4 linked regions of the Homo sapiens genome follow. The protein of the gene in region 1 interacts with the protein of each later gene in a pairwise test. Each region holds a gene or a part of one and is shown in the gene's direction. Other genes may lie near its edges.

Region 1 (4,012 bases):
TGCGGCCGACATCTCGCCAGGTCACGAGCATGATTTCCGAGTTAAGCACCTGTCCGAGGCCTTGAACGACAAGCACGGGCCGCTGGCCGGTGAGTACCGCAGCCCAGCCCGAGGGCAGCCGCTGACACTGCCTTCGCAGCGGTCCCCGGATGGCCTGCTCCTGCCTGGCCCAGCTGGGCCCACTCTGCTCTGAGGATGGGCCAGGCCTATGCGCCTCTCTCTCCACTCTCTCTCTTTTGGGCCTAGGTCTCCTTGCCTCTCTCCAGATGGGAGTGCGTGCCTGTCTGTCAGGCCTGGGCCAAGGGGAGAAGCCGCTGCTCCTCGGAAAGCAGGCAGAGAGGGAAGGTGGCTCCCTTGAGGGCAGGGAGCCCTGACGTCCGCCTCCTGCAACAATTCAGAGCTCTGATCCCCTCGGAGCCCATCCCTTGGCACATAGGACCAGGCAGTTCTGCCGCCGGTTTTGCCTGCAGGCGCCCCCGCCGTGGCCTCCAGTAATAGGGTCTGGCCTCCTCCTGGGGCAGCTGGCAACCCCTCCTCTCTGGGACTTACCAGCCTCTTAGATTTTGACCCCATGCCAGCCAGCCTCAGAAGCTGCAGCCAACCACCCTCTTAGATGTTCCAGAAGCCCTGACTGGGCTGGTCACTTCCTTCACAGGCCCCGCATTTGCCCACATGGATGACCCCAGTGCCAGCCTCCTTGAGGTGGCACAGCCACCTGCCCACCCTGGGCTGCCCTCTTTCAGGTACAACTCAGAATGCTCAGTCCTGGGGTCAAACCACCTTATCCAGGACGCTGATTCAGGAATCTTCCCTCCTTATCTTTCCATCCGTCACTCTCCTGCCTCTGGTGTCTGATCCCACTGTCTGCGCAGAGCCGAGAATGAAGCCAGAACAAAGGCTGGGCTCAGCTCCTTTTATTCCCCTCGAACCTGGCGGGGCCTGCTGGCTCCCTTGCAGCTTTCTGCCAGAACAGTCAGCCTCTTCCCCATCCTCTGCCAGTGTGGGGTACAGGCCAGGAGCTGGGGGACCCACGCCGCCCCCAGCCAGGAGTGTGGCTGGCCCCAGACCAGCAGCTCAAGAGTTGTGCCATCCCCCAGGGAGAGATGACATGCTGGACGTGGAGACCGATGCCTACATCCACTGCGTCAGTGCCTTCGTCAAGCTGGCGCAGAGCGAGTACCAGCTGCTGGCCGACATCATCCCCGAGCACCACCAGAAGAAGACCTTCGACTCCCTGATACAGGTCCCGCCCCGCCCCGGGGGCTCTGCAGCCAGCCCCAGCAAGAGCTGTCACAACAGACTCTTGCAGCCCTCAACTCCACCCACCACCACCACCTCGTGCCCTGGGGACCGGTCCTGGGTGGACGCTCACCACCTCCCCGTCACCCCTCTTCCTGCACACTGGCCCCCCTACATACTGCAAGGATCCCCCACTAGCCCAGAACTAGCTCCCACCGCCCCACCCTTCCCTGAACTGTCTCCCTGCCCCCTCAGGATGCCCTGGATGGGCTGATGCTTGAAGGGGAGAACATCGTGTCTGCTGCCCGGAAGGCCATTGTGCGACACGACTTCTCCACGGTGCTCACCGTCTTCCCCATCCTGCGACACCTCAAGCAGACCAAGCCTGAGTTTGACCAGGTGCTCCAGGTATGTGGGCGAGGGGCCCTCAAAAACACAGCCAGGAGGCATCGTGCTGCCGGGTGTGGCCGCCCCATCCCTCCCTGGGAGAACCCCATTCTCTGTCCCACACTTCTGCTCTGAAGGTGCATGGAAGCAGCTTAGGAAGGGCCCTGGGTGAGTGAGATGCTCACAGAGCGACTGGAGGTGAGCTGGGGGCTCCCCTGTGCTTCCTCAGGGCACGGCTGCCAGCACAAAGAACAAGCTGCCTGGCCTCATCACATCCATGGAGACCATCGGTGCCAAAGCGCTGGAGGACTTCGCAGACAACATCAAGGTCCCTGCTGTCCTCCCCTTTCTCCCTCCCTCCCGGCCCAGCACCACAGTGACCTGGCCCTGGGGGACTCTCAGAGCAGGCCTCCAAGAGGGTGCGTTGTCCCGGGGCAGCCAGCTGCGCCACTGGCCTGTCAGCACCCATGTGCCTTCCTTTCCTTCCTGGGGCCTCCAAGCCCTCTGAAGTGGGAAGGGCCTCTCCCCCTTGGTCCAGCCTGGCTCAGCCTTTGTGCCTGAGAGGTGTCCTAGCACCCGTCTGCCAGGAGGCGGCACCATGAGCAGGTGCACTGGGGCATGGGGTGGGCTGGGGGCTGCTTCAGGGAACCAGAGGCTGTTTTTCCACAGAATGACCCGGACAAGGAGTACAACATGCCGAAGGACGGCACCGTACACGAGCTCACCAGCAATGTGGGTGCTGCCTGAGGACACCAGGGAGAGGGGAGGAAGGAGGGCCCAGGCCCAGGCCCAGGGCCAGGCAGAGTACTGGTGGAAGGGACTCAGCCTGGCCCAGAGCCGCTCGCACCTTTGTGAGCAGTCCTGGGTGGCAGGATGGACAGTGACATGTTTAGTGTCTCTAGCAGACAGGGCCTTTCCTGGCAGGCTAGAGTGAAAATGAAGTTTCCAGCCGCGCTCTTCACTGGGCGGATCCCAGCCCTGGGCTGGCCCTGGGCACTCAGAGGGGTCGCTGTGGGAGGCCGTCGGCCGGGCCTGCCACTTGCCCTTCTGCACCGTTTTCTTCCCACCCAGGCCATCCTCTTCCTGCAGCAGCTTTTGGACTTCCAGGAGACGGCAGGCGCCATGCTGGCCTCCCAAGGTACTGGTACCTCCCAGTTGGGCCCCCTGCCCCACTCGCCTCCTTGCCTGGAGACATGGGGTTAGAGGGCAGGTAGCAGTGAGGAGGTATCTCCAGTCTGTGGAGGGGTTGAGGTGTGCTCAGCAGAGGGTCCCTGGGGCTGAGCATCAGGAGAGCAAGGTTTGCCTGCACCTTTCAAGACCAGACACTGGACCTCTGGCCCCTCCCTCAGCCCCTTTGACCGTCCTCGCCCTGGAAGCAGTGTCCTCACTCTGGGAGCGGTGCTGGTTGGTTGGAAGGTGTCCTTTCTGCCCCTGCCCCCCTCCCAAATCCTTCTCTCGTGTCTGCCTGCTCTCCTAATCAGGCTCGCTCAGCTGGCCTTCAGAGGGTAGCAAGTGTCTCAGGGCCCGCTGGGCGTCTTCCTGCTGGCCCTGCCCTGGGACTGGAGCTCAGGGGGTTGGCCTGTAAGCAAGAGCACCTTTCTGGGTCATTCCAAGCACTGAGGTCCCTGGGCCCTCTCCTCCCGTCCCATTTTGGGGGCAAGGAGCCTGTGGGCAGCCTCCAGCCTGCAGTTCTCAGCTCTCTACTTTCCAGGGTGTTCCCTGGTCCTCAGAGGGTCCCGCCTGCTGTGTCTTGCTATCTGTGTTTTGGCTGTCGTGGGGAGAGGTCTGCTTAATTCGGGTTGACATGCCGTTTCTAACCTGTTTTTTGCACTTTGCATCTTTCTCCCTCCTTTGTCTCTCCCTCTGTCCCCTCTGTGTGCACTGCCTTTCACTCCGTAGTTCTTGGGGACACATACAATATTCCTTTAGACCCCCGAGGTAAGCAGTGCGGTTCTGCAGCCCCCTCCTGTCCCTCTGAAGCTTGGTGGGTGAGGTTCCCTGGGGACTGACTCTCAGTACCTACTGGGGAGCCTGAGTCAGAGGGGACATGAGTTTTCTCGGGGTGCTCTCAACTCTCTCTGCTCCCTTCAAGGCCACTCTGTCTCTGAGCTTATCCGCAGCACCTGCCCAGGCTAGAGCCCTGGATACACCCCCTAGGCTCGCCCGGCCTCCCTGCCTTGCTGTCCCCACTCGGCCTTCCCCACTGTGCAGGCCGCAGCTTCGTCTGTTCAGTAGGGTCTGGTAGAGGGGATGTTCGAATGTAGGGGAGAAGGTGGAGAGGCTGTGGGGAGCCCATTCTAAGACTCTGCTGTTGACAAAAGGAAAAAGGGGGCCTTGTAGAAACCACCCAGGGTGGGTGGGGGCAGGAGGGGACAGGGCGCTGGCA
Region 2 (4,012 bases), on another chromosome or scaffold:
TGTTAGGTAGCACTTGCTGCTTCACCTTGTACTTTCGTGTTATGGGGACAGCTTCTTTCCTTAAACCTCATGAACCAGCCTCTGCTGCTTCCAACTTTTTTTTTTTTTTTTTTTTTTTTTTTGAGATGGATTTTCACTCTTGTTGCCCAAGCTGGAGAGCAATGGCGTGATCTCGGCTCACTGCAACCTCCACCTCCCGGGTTCAAGCGATTCTCCTGCCTCAGCCTCCGTAGTAGCTGGGAGTACAGGCAGCTGCCACCACATACAGCTAATTTTTTGTATTTTTAGTAGAGACGGGCTCTACTAAATGTTAGCTAGGCTGGGACTTCTGACCTCAGGTGATCCACCTGCCTCAGCCTCTCAAAGTGCTGGGATTACAGGGGTGAGCTGCCGTGCCTGGCTCCAACTTTTCTTCTGCATCTTCCTCACCTCTCTCAGCCTTCATAGAATTGAAGAAAACTTGGGCCTGGTTCTCGATTAGGCTTCAGTTTAAGGGAATGTTGTGGCTGGTTTGATCTAATCAGACCACTCATACTTTCCACATATCACCAATAAGGCTGTTTCACTTTCTTTCCCTCCCTCCCTCTTTTTTTGAGACTATTGCCCAGGTTGGAGTGCAGTGGTATGATCATGGCTCACTGCAACCTCTGCCTCCTGGGTGCAAGCAATTCTCTTGCCTCAACCTCCCGAGTAGCTGGGATAACAGGTGTGCAGCATGTGTCCAGCTAATTTTTGTATTATTAGTAGAGGTAAGGTTTCACCATGTTGACCAGGCTGGTCTCGAACTCCTGACCTCAAGTGATCCGCCCGCCTTGGCCTCCCAAAGTGTTGGGATTACAGGTGTGAGCCAACGGACCTGGCCATTTTCTTATTCATGTGTTCACTGGAGTAGCACTTTTTAATTGCCTTTAAGTTTTCCTTTGTTCTGAGAGGTGATTTAAAATTTCAAAAATTTGTGTATGTATTTTTTTAATTTCAAAAATTGGAAAGAAACTTCTGCTTTGCATTTACAACTTGGCTAACTTGTTTTTTTCTTTTCTTTTCTTTTTTTTTTTTTTTTTGAGATGGAGTCGCTCTGTCGCCCAGGCTAGAGTGCAGTGGCGCGATCTTGGCTCACTGCAACCTCTGCCTCCCGGGTTCAAGTGATTCTCTTGCCTCAGCCTACCAAGTAGTTGGGACTACAGACGTGAGCCACCACGCCCGGCTAATTTTTGTATTTTTAGTAGAGACAGGGTTTCGCCGTATTGGCCAGGCTGGTCTTGAACTCCTGACCTCAAATAATCCACCCACCTTGGCCTCCCAGAGTACTGGGATTACAGGCATGAGCCACCGCACCCAGCCCTTTTTTGTTTTTTTTTAAAGAGATGAAGTCTCCCTATGTTATCCAGGCAGGTCTCAAACTCCTGGCCTCAAGTGGTCCTCCTGCCTCAGCCTCAGGCATGATCCACTGTTCCTGGCCTTGGCTATGTTTTTGAGAGACAGGGTCTCATTCTGTTGCTCAGGTTGGGATGCAGTGGTGAGATCATAGCTCACTGCACTCTTGACCTCTTGGGCTAAAGTGGTTCTCCCACCTCAGCCCCCTGAGTAACTGGGACTACAGGGATGTGCCAGCATGCCCAGCTAATTTTGAAAAAGTTTTGTAGAAGTGAGGTCTCATTATGTTGCCTCGGCTGTCTCTTAAGTTCCTTTCCAGAATGGTGAATCCTTTCAAGCCGCCTTCCTGCCTCGTCCTTCCGAAGTGTTGGGATTACCCATATGAATCACTGTTCCTGACCTGAACATCAAAGATCACTGATCACAGATCCCCGTAACAGACATAATAATGACAAAGTTTGAAATAGTGAAGAATTACCAAAATGTAACACAGACACAAAGTGAGCTCCTGTTTTTGGAAAATTGGCACCAATAGGCTTGCTTTCTTCATACAGGGTTGCCACAGATCTTCAACTTGTGAAAAACATAGTACCTGCTGAGTGCAATAAAGCAAAACACAATAAAAGGTAAAATGAGGTGCTTATAGCCAGGCGCAGTGGCTGACGCCTGTAATCCCAGCACTTTGGGAGGCCGAGGCGGGTGGATCACGAGGTCAGGAGATCGAGACCATCCTGGCTAACACTGTGAAACCCCGTCTCTACTAAATATACAAAGAATTAGCTGGGCGTAGTGGCGGGCACCTGTATTCTCAGCCACTTGGGAGGCTAAGGCAGGAGAATGGCGTGAACCCAGGGGGCGGAGCTTGCAGTGAGCCGAGATCGCGCCACTGCACTCCAGCCTGGGTGACACAGCGAGACTCCATCTCAGAAAAAAAGAAAAAAGAAAAATGAGGTGCTTATAGTCTGTTGAATCTAAAATGCAGCAGTGTGTTATACCACTACAGATGCTCCCAGTGCCTTCTGGCACGCTGCTTTCTTACCCCATCAGTGAAGGATGCTTTTCACTTCAGACATTTAAAAGTGTGCCTTAGAATTGATGAAACATGGTCAGTGAAGTATGACTTGTTTCAAAGATTAACCTTCTGCGCTTATGATCTAAGTGCCAGCAGGTTCTGTGGTAATGATACTGAGTACAATGCATTTTGTTGGGATTCCTGTACTCTATATGTAGTTAACGTTTCTCTGGCAGTAACTTTAGAAAAGTACTACTTGTGAGGCCAGGTGCGGTGGCTCACACCTGTAATCCTAGCGCTTTGGGAGGCCGAGGTGGGTGGATTGCCTGAGGTCAGGAGTTTGAGACCAGCCTGGCCAAGATGGGGCAACCCCTGTCTCTACTAAAAATGCAAAATTAGCTGGGTGTGGTGGCAGGAGCCTGTATCCCCAGCTACTCGGGAGGCTGAGGCAGGAGAATCACTTGAACCAGGAGGTGGAGGTTGCAGTGAGCTGAGATCGCTCCAGTGCACTTCAGGCTGGGCGACAGAGCAAGACTCCATGTCCGAAAAAAGAGAAAAAAAAATACTACTTGTAAATAGCAGAAATAGAAAGGTGCTACTTATGAGAAGTAACATCCTATTTGCGGCTTACACTTTTGTTGCAAATTGTTAAAAGTGTCTGAAACTGTTTAGAAGGACAGCCTGAAACTGCTAAAGTGATGCAAAGTATAGACTCTGGTGGGAGAGGGGGCGTCTTAAATTTTCACGTTTGCTTGGCCTCTGGGGGCCTCTTAACAGCACTTTAAAGGAAATAAATAGATGAAGAAGAGAACAAATTATTTTGAAATACAGTTATTAAAATACTGTATTGAACCAAATTGGTGATAGTCCCATTTATTAGCTTAGTAACCGGATTGAGCTGTGGCTCTGGTAATTCATTTGGGAGTAGTGACGAGATTTTTTGTGACACTCTAATGCTTTGGAAAATACCTGTTGCTGTTCCTGCTAAAACTCCAGGGCTTATTGTCTGCCTTTGTAATTGAAGGAGTGCTACATTTCAGCTAGAAGTTTTTGCCTTTTATCATTCATGTTCACAAATACCAAGTTGATTTACTCTCAGCCTATCCATTTGTAGGAATATATGGTGTCCTTTCTTTACTTCCTCAAATGATTATATTGATGACAAAAGAGACAAGGAAATAAAAACGGCACAGATAGGGGAACCCAAAGCCTAACAGTGTGTGTCCTTGGAGGTGAGGGTGAAGGAAGTGGCTGCAGGCCCTGGGAAGTACCATCTTGCATCCGTGTGCAGCACTGAGTGGATACCTCATGGTTCTGTCTTGTGTACACTGTTCAGGAGGACATGTAGAGTGGACATATCACATAGAAGAAGGTCAGTCTGGAAACTGTTAGGAGAAGCACTCAAGGGCTGAGAGGCATGGTCCTTGGTGGAAAGAGCCAGCAGGCCTGGTGCTGGCGGTGCCCTGCTCGTGACAGTGTGCAAAGTCTGGAGCCTGGCCTGTTCCCGCCCTTGGCAGATGGTAGCTCCTTGTTTTGGATTATTAGCCCCTGCCGGTTTAGTTACTGTTTCTGGAAGATTCACATAGAAGGCAGTGTGGTAATTCAGTCAACGTGTTGTCTGGCATG
Region 3 (4,012 bases), on another chromosome or scaffold:
TTTTGAGTAATAATTGTAGTGTAATGTTACAGCATATTTTGAGATTATAAGTTTTTTTAAGTTTGGAATTTTAAAATAGGCAACTTTGCTTTTATACATAAATTACTGTTATATGCCTTTAGTTGAGAATACTGACTAGAAGAGTAAGATTCAACTTAAGATGCTAGGTCCTGGTACCAGGTTTGAGGTAAAGTGAGGATGAGGGCTGGAGGATAATGATGTAGCTGAGAATAGACAGACGAAATACTTTATTAGGCTTCTCAGGCTAGGAACTACCAGTTACCGTGAAAGGTGATGATGTAGCAGAAGTGAGCAAGTGGCCTGCCGAATTTGAGTGCAAGAGGAGGCACTGAGTGGGGAGATGAGCCTGGTTAAGTTCTTGCCTTTATACCAAAGGTCGTCTTCAAGGTGTTTTTGCCCAAGTAGGCAACTGTATGCTTATCAACCGTCTTGAAATTCTGCACAGAATTCTCTGGGTTTATACATTGCACAAATTTGAAGAACATTGTATAGTGGTCATCAGTTGTTATGATACACTGCTGCCTCACTGTGGGTGACCCAACCCATTTGTTACAATTTGTCCCCAGAGGTTATTCCCTCCCAGCCCCCCACAAAAAAAGACTGTGGGTCTTTTGACTGGGAAAATTACCATTATTGTGAGTACTATTTTTTTTTCTAAAGCGACCGAGTAGATCCTTTTCTCCGATAACTTGATAGAATACTTAGATTTTTAAAACAGACTACCAAATGAATTTAAAACCAAATTAATTCAACATTCTCATCTGGCCATAAATTGAGTTCTTTAACATGTAGTGAAGCAAAGGGTGATGTCCCCATTTTGGCACTTTGCTTTCTTAAGTTAGTGTTCATTAACACCAGCCCCAAACAGACTATTGTGATTATTTGGAGCCTTGAAGTAATTGTGTCCGTGGGGACAGTAGCATGTGACTAGGGTTCTCATTGAAACATGAGGTTTCTGGCATATTTTGAGAGGTACTGGGAAGGGATGTAAGGCAAAGTACCTCATTTATAACTACCAAAACAGGTTATGTTACAAGCAAGATTACAGCCTTACAGCATCAGTTTTGAAAGTAATAGAGTGAAATGATATAGCATAGTTTGAGATTATAACTTGTTTTAACCTCTCAGAATTAAGTTGTCCAAGACACCATCTAGTTTAAGCAGTTAATATAAGCTGCTTAAATGGTGGTAATAATAAGCAATATTACATGTTTATGATACTTGTTTTACTGTAAGCTACAGTAAATCTTTAGTACTTACAAACAGGGTGACATATTTTGTAGACTAAGACTGGTCAGATGATATTCTTTCCCATATTTTTGCAGAGGCTAGATGTTGAAAACAGTGAAGAAAAAAATACAATTTTTTATTGACTTCTGTAGGATTTATACAAAGCCCTTTTTTAAAAATGTGAAGTTTGAAAGTTCATACCATTTATTCACTAAATACAGTTTATCAGTATTTATCTCAGCTAGGTGCGGTGGCTCACGCCCGTAATCTCAACACTTTGGGAGGCTGAGGCAGGTGGTTCTCTCAAGTCCAGGACTTCAAGACCAGCCTGGACAACACAGTGAAACCCCATCTCTATTTAAAAATAATAAAAATATAAAAAAATTTAAAAAATTATCTCTGAATATAATGTCATAAATTTAGAGTGACAGTTGAAATGAAATCTTTCTTAACAGAAGGTTTATTTTTGTTTTTTGTTTTTTTCCTCAGGCTTCATGGTGTATTAGATAAACTTCGCTCTGTTACAACTGGTAAGATTCATAACTTTTTTTTTTAATTTCTGCTTGCTATGGCATATGATTTGTTTCTTTCTAAAGTCATAGTGCTTTGGGAAAAACCCATCAATTTCAAAACGGTTCATTTGAACTTTTTTAGAAAGCACATACTTTTATGAACTTAAGAGCAGTAAATTTAACATAATTCAAAGATAATTTAAGTGTGGGAGAGGGAGCAGTGCACTTTATCCGAAGGAAATAATTACATATATGTGCAAAGATTTAGCCTCAAGGATATTTCAGTATTTTATAATTGAAAACAATTTAAAAGTTCAGTCATAATAAACGAAATTGTTGTATTACCATGTGTGGAATAATATTTAACTATTAAAAATAATGTTGTGGAAGAATAACAGAATATACACGCATAAGATACATGTTTTAAAAAATGTGTATATATGCTCTTCCCCCGAAAAATCACCTTTGAGATAATTGGTGATTTTTATTATATTTTTAAAATTTTCTACAATAAACATACTGCTTTTGAATTGGTGATGAGGAAGGAAACGACTTAAAGTAATAAAAATAGATGGCCGGGCACGGTGGCTCACGCCTGTAATCCCAGCATTTTGGGAGGCCAAGGTGGGCGGATCATGGGCTCAGGAGATGGAGACCATCTTGGCCAACCAACATGGTGAATCTCCGTCTCTACTAAAAATACAAAAATTAGCCAGGCATCGTGGCACATGCCTGTAATCCCAGCTACTTGGGAGGCCGGGGCAGGAGAATCGCTTGAACCAGGGATTTGGAGGTTGCAGGGAGCCGAGAACGCGCCACTGCCCTCCAGCCTGGCGACAGAGCGAGACTCCATCTCAAAAATAAATAAATAAATAAAAATAAGAAATAAAAATAGATTAAAAGGACTGTATTTTTCTTTTCAGAACCCTCTAGTCTGAAGTCTTCTGATACCAACATCTTTGATAGTAACGTGCCTTCAAACAAGAGCAATTTCAGTCGGGGAGATGAGAGGAGGCATGAAGCTGCAGTGCCACCACTTGCCATTCCTAGCGCGAGACCTGAAAAAAGAGATTCCAGAGTTTCTACAAGTTCGCAGGAGTCAAAAACCACAAATGTCAGGTAAGAGTCTGGTGTAGACCTGCTGGGGGCAGATGGCTCTGTGTATGTGACATTTATATTAGTTTTTATATCTTTCAGTTTGCTGTTCTCAGCAATTTTTAGAAACAATGAAGTGATCGTGAGTAGTTTTTTGAATAAAATAATGGATAAGATCTAAGTATGATTATCTTTTATCACAAATTTAGTAAATCAAAGTTGAAAGAAAGTGCAATTTCAAAGCAGTTTTGAATGGAATATGTAAAGGGAGTATCCTCAGTTTTTTCATTGAAATTTTTCAAGTAAACATTCTTTAAAGATTTGGTGATAATTGCCCTAATTTGGCTGTAATACATTTTGTTGTTCTTTTAAATAGACAGACTTACGATGATGGAGCTGCAACCCGACTAATGTCAACAGTGAAACCTTTGAGGGAGCCAGCACCCTCTGAAGATGTGATTGATATTAAGCCAGAACCAGATGATCTCATTGACGAAGACCTCAACTTTGTGCAGGAGAATCCCTTATCTCAGAAAAAACCTACAGTGACACTTACATATGGTTCTTCTCGCCCTTCTATTGAAATTTATCGACCACCTGCAAGTAGAAATGCAGATAGTGGTGTTCATTTAAACAGGTTGCAATTTCAACAGCAGCAGAATAGTATTCATGCTGCCAAGCAGCTTGATATGCAGAGTAGTTGGGTATATGAAACAGGACGTTTGTGTGAACCAGAGGTGCTTAACAGCTTAGAAGAAACGTATAGTCCGTTCTTTAGAAACAACTCGGAGAAAATGAGTATGGAGGTTTGTATGTACTTTTAAATTCTGGCTTAGGCTAAAAATCGGCAGTTCTTGATACCAAATAATATATGAAGTAACTAAACACATATTCCAAGGCTGGGCACAGTGGCTCACACCTGTAATCCCAGGACTTTGGGAGGCCGAGGCGGGTGGATCACGAGGTCAGGAGATTGAGACCATCCTGGCTAACACGGTGAAACCCCGTCTCTACTAAAAATACAAAAAATTAGCCAGGCATGGTGGCAGGCGCCTGTAGTCCCAGCTACTCGGGAGGCTGAGGCAGGAGAATGGCGTGAACCTGGGAGGCGGAGCTTGCACTGAGCCAAGATCGTGCCACTGCACTCCAGCCTG
Region 4 (4,012 bases), on another chromosome or scaffold:
TAGACTGTCAGCTCCCACCTTGATACCTTTCCTTAGAGAAATGAAAGGGCTGGGCTGATGAAGCCTAAAGCTGACTCGCCCTCTGTTCTACGGTAGAAAGAAATTTACCTTAAGTAGCCACGTACAGGTGTATTTCAGGTATCTAGAACACTTGGTATACCAAATAGGGGCTGCAGAGAACAGATTAAAGGAAGTTTTTACTTAAAGGGCTCTGGTATTCATTCTGAAATACTGACTTTCCTGGCTAGAAGTAGGAAACAGATGGGTAAAGCAAGTAACATTTTATCTTTTTTTTTTTTTTTTTTTTTTTTTTTTTTTGTGCTGTGCCAGAGAGCCACAGTGTAGAGTGCAAGGACATTCCTCAGGAACATTTGTCCCAATAGGTTGGATATATTTATGTCCCTGGAAGAAATTTTCCAGTCCCATCTATGCTGATGGGCCTGCTGAGTATAGACTCAGGAAAGCTGCCCCACTGCTACAGCCTTTTGGGAATGACTGAATGACTTTCTCTGTGCCATGTTTTCAGGCCATCTTGGCAGCAGGCAGCATGATGCAGACCCACGGGGACTTTGATGTTGCCCTCACCAAATACAGAGTTGTGGCTTGTGCTGTTCCAGAAAGTCCTCCACTCTGGAATAACATTGGAATGTGTTTCTTTGGCAAGAAGAAATATGTGGCGGTGAGTGTCCCCTCATGTTCTTTGTTTGTATTTCTACATGTGGTTATTGGGTCTGTTTAGCTTGCCCTTCTCATTGAGTGCCCCTTCTCTCTCATAGGCCATCAGCTGCCTGAAACGAGCCAACTACTTGGCACCCTTTGATTGGAAGATTCTGTATAATTTGGGCCTTGTCCATTTGACCATGCAGCAGTATGCATCAGCTTTTCATTTTCTCAGTGCGGCCATCAACTTCCAGCCAAAGATGGGGGAGCTCTACATGCTCTTGGCAGGTAAGAAACATTTATGTGGAAAACTCTCTCTGCCATCTGTAATGAGGGAAAAATGGATTAGAATCATAGAAGATCAGTGGCTGTCTCATAGGAGCCATTCCCTTAGAGATCCTGTAGGAATCTGGATTACTGTCCTGGAGCTTGAAGAAATAGAAAAAGATGACAAAGGAACTTGGTTGTTTCTAACTTGGGGGAGTTTGACTCAGAGACCAACAGGTTAAATAAAGATCATCCCTAGTTCACCTTTTACCAGTTTTTTCCTCTTGCCTTGACAATTCATTTATGTATATATTGAGTCCAACTAAGTTCCAGACAGCAAGTGTTAAGAGCTTGGGTTTTAGGTAGGGTCCTGCCTCTACTACTTATTATATGTACCTAGGGCTGATGTGAGGATTGCATGATTAAGCTCTCAATTAATAATACTGGTTTTGTTGAAATACTGATTTTTGAAAACTGTTGGTTTTACTGTGGTTATATAATTGGTCTATTATTATCAATATTGTTGTTACTATAATTGGCCCCTAGGTGATACTTCCAAGTCAAGCTACCTTATGTTGAAACCCTTATCTCTTCTGAGCATGTTATATAGAATGCCATTCTCTTCCTGAAACTCCATTTTATGCCATGCAAATACTAAAATTGATCATAAAAATAAGTTAAAATTAATCAAACACTTTAACAATTATGCACAACCATTTTAAAGTACTGACTAGTCTTTCTAGGAATTTTTTTCTCCATATACATTTACTTACTAAATGTAAGACCCAAAGCAGATTTCCATGTCCTCATTTGGCAGTCGTCTTCCAGTGGCTTTTTGTTCATTACTGTGGGTTCTTATTTAAAAGAGAAAGCTTGCAAAAGCAATTGTGGTTATTTGAGGGTTGCCTGAATACAAAGATAACTTTAAAAAAAAAACATAGGTTTTATTATTATTCAGATATGGTATGGGCAACAGATCAGAAGACATCTGCCACTGGAAAGATAGTCTGTTACAATTCCTGAGAAGGAGGGCATGCTACACCGTGCAGGGCCACATGGGGAAGCACCAGGTCAATCAGGAGGTAGAGGGAGCAAGGGGTAAATGTGGGCACAATTCTTTATTGTAGTTTTCATGGGTAGAAATGCCCTCCCCGGGGCAAGACCGGGAAAGCAGGTTAACCAGGTTGGGGATTGGCCAGTTTGAATAATTTCAGTGGGCTCTGGGCTATAGGGCTGTCTCTAGGTGTCTGGTACCTGACCCTCGGGTGACTAGGACTAGGGAATATTGGCCCAGTGTCAGGGCCCAGTAAAGGAGGCAGTTAAGAATATGAACACTGGGTTGGTCGGTCTGCATACAGAAGGTACTCTTGTAGGGGTTATATCTAGGAATTAGCTGACTGTGGGAGGGACAGTCTCCCCAGGGTCAGTAAGGCCCCAGATGTCAAAACATCAGAATAAAAAGGCTAAAGTGGGGTGTGATGGTACATACCTGTAGTGCTGGCTACTTGGGAGGCTAAGGCAGGAAGTTTGCTTAAGCCCAGGAGTTGGGAGTACAGCCTGGGCAACACAGTGAGACTCCATTCCTCTCTCTTTTTTTAAAAATTTTATTTTAGGTTCAGGGGTACATGTGCATCCTGTTACACAGGCACGTGTGTCATGGGGATTAGTTGTACAGATTATTTCATCACCCAGGTACTAAGCCTAGTACCCAATAGTTATTTTTTTCTGGCCCTCCCCCTCCTCCAGTAAGCTCCAGTGTCTGTTTCCCTCTGTGTCTCCATGTGTTCTCATCATTTAGCTCTTATAGTGAGAACATGCAGGATTTGGTTTTCTATCCTTTATTAATTTGCTAAGGATGGTGGCCTCCAGCTCCATCTATGTTGCTGCAAAGGACACGATCTTGTTCTTTTGTATGGCTGTGTCGTATTCCATGGTGTACATTTACATTTTGTTTATCCAGTCTACCATTGATGGGCATTTAGGTTGATTTCACATCTTTGCTATTGTGAATAGTGCTGCATTGAACACACACATGCATGTGTCTTTATGGCAGAACGATTTACATTCCTTTGGGCATATACCCAGTAATGGGATTGCTGGGTCGAAGGGTAGTTGTATTTTTAGCTCTTTGGGGAATTGCCAGATTGCTTTCCACAATGGTTGAACTAATTTACACTCCCATCAACAGTGTATAAGCATTCCCTTTTCTCTGCAGCCTCACCAGGATGTTATATTTTGAGTTTTTAATAATAGCCATTTTGACTGGTGTGAGATGGTTATCTCACTGTGGTTTCAATTTGCATTTCTCTAATCAGTGATAGAGTTTTTCATATGCTTGTTGGCTGCATACATGACTTCTTTTGAAGTGTCTGTTTATGTCCTTTGCCCATTTTAATGGGATTGTATTCTTCTTGTAAATTTGCTTAAGTTCCTTATAGATCCTGGATATTAGACCTGCATGGTTTGCAAATATTTTCTCCCATTTTGTACATTGTCTGTTTACTGTGTTGATAGTTTCTTTAGATAGCTGGGTTCTAATGGAACACAGAAATGTAAACAGCCATAATGTAAGAGATAACAGCGATGCTAACTTTACAAAGTAGAGATGGCATTCAAACTGGATCCTGAACAACAAGCTAAAATGGAATAGCACAGAATGGCTGAGGAGCCACTGTGAAGAAAGGCATGCAGCCATGAAACTGCAGTGTCCCTTGCTGTTAGTGGGGGTTAGTGTTAGAGAATATGATGGGAGATGAATCAGGAAAGATATTCTGGGGTCAGATTATGGAGGTCATGCGTACAGTGCAAGGACTTTATCTTAGAGGCCATGTTTGTCCAGCTGTCTTCCTAGATCTCCTCTTAGGTGCCTGGTAGGAGTGAGTGCATAGCTGGTGGGGAGGTGGAATGGGCAGGGCTTCCAGAGCAGCTGTTTTTGTTTTATATATTAGGTGTCAAGGAAATACTGATTTTAAAAAGTGGGGGGAGTGTTTTACTGCTAAATGAAAGTGTAAAGATCATGGTTATAGATGTGGGGGGCCAGTGAGGATTCCTAAGTAGGATGGTAATGTGGTCAGATTTGTAAGGC

What was found.
Region 2: the proteins of EXOC7 (region 1) and PKNOX1 interact in a two-hybrid assay, tested with the Homo sapiens proteins (one large-scale study listed by BioGRID and IntAct).
Region 3: the proteins of EXOC7 (region 1) and ZC3H14 interact in a two-hybrid assay, tested with the Homo sapiens proteins (one large-scale study listed by BioGRID and IntAct).
Region 4: the proteins of EXOC7 (region 1) and BBS4 interact in a two-hybrid assay, tested with the Homo sapiens proteins (one study listed by BioGRID and IntAct).

The regions. Positions count from the first base shown.
Region 1 is NC_000017.11:76,086,406-76,090,417, reverse strand, and holds part of EXOC7 (exocyst complex component 7), read left to right. Parts: coding exon of another isoform or gene 1-89; intron 90-246; coding exon of another isoform or gene 247-374; exon of another isoform or gene 375-676; coding exon of another isoform or gene 677-743; intron 744-1,097; coding exon 1,098-1,243; intron 1,244-1,494; coding exon 1,495-1,647; intron 1,648-1,855; coding exon 1,856-1,954; intron 1,955-2,295; coding exon 2,296-2,358; intron 2,359-2,697; coding exon 2,698-2,764; intron 2,765-3,525; coding exon of another isoform or gene 3,526-3,564; intron 3,565-4,012. UniProt on the Homo sapiens protein: Component of the exocyst complex involved in the docking of exocytic vesicles with fusion sites on the plasma membrane.
Region 2 is NC_000021.9:42,977,443-42,981,454, forward strand, and holds part of PKNOX1 (homeobox protein PKNOX1), read left to right. Parts: intron 1-4,012. UniProt on the Homo sapiens protein: Activates transcription in the presence of PBX1A and HOXA1.
Region 3 is NC_000014.9:88,569,344-88,573,355, forward strand, and holds part of ZC3H14 (zinc finger CCCH domain-containing protein 14), read left to right. Parts: intron 1-1,740; coding exon 1,741-1,781; intron 1,782-2,686; coding exon 2,687-2,882; intron 2,883-3,234; coding exon 3,235-3,664; intron 3,665-4,012. UniProt on the Homo sapiens protein: RNA-binding protein involved in the biogenesis of circular RNAs (circRNAs), which are produced by back-splicing circularization of pre-mRNAs.
Region 4 is NC_000015.10:72,730,779-72,734,790, forward strand, and holds part of BBS4 (BBSome complex member BBS4), read left to right. Parts: intron 1-526; coding exon 527-679; intron 680-776; coding exon 777-948; intron 949-4,012.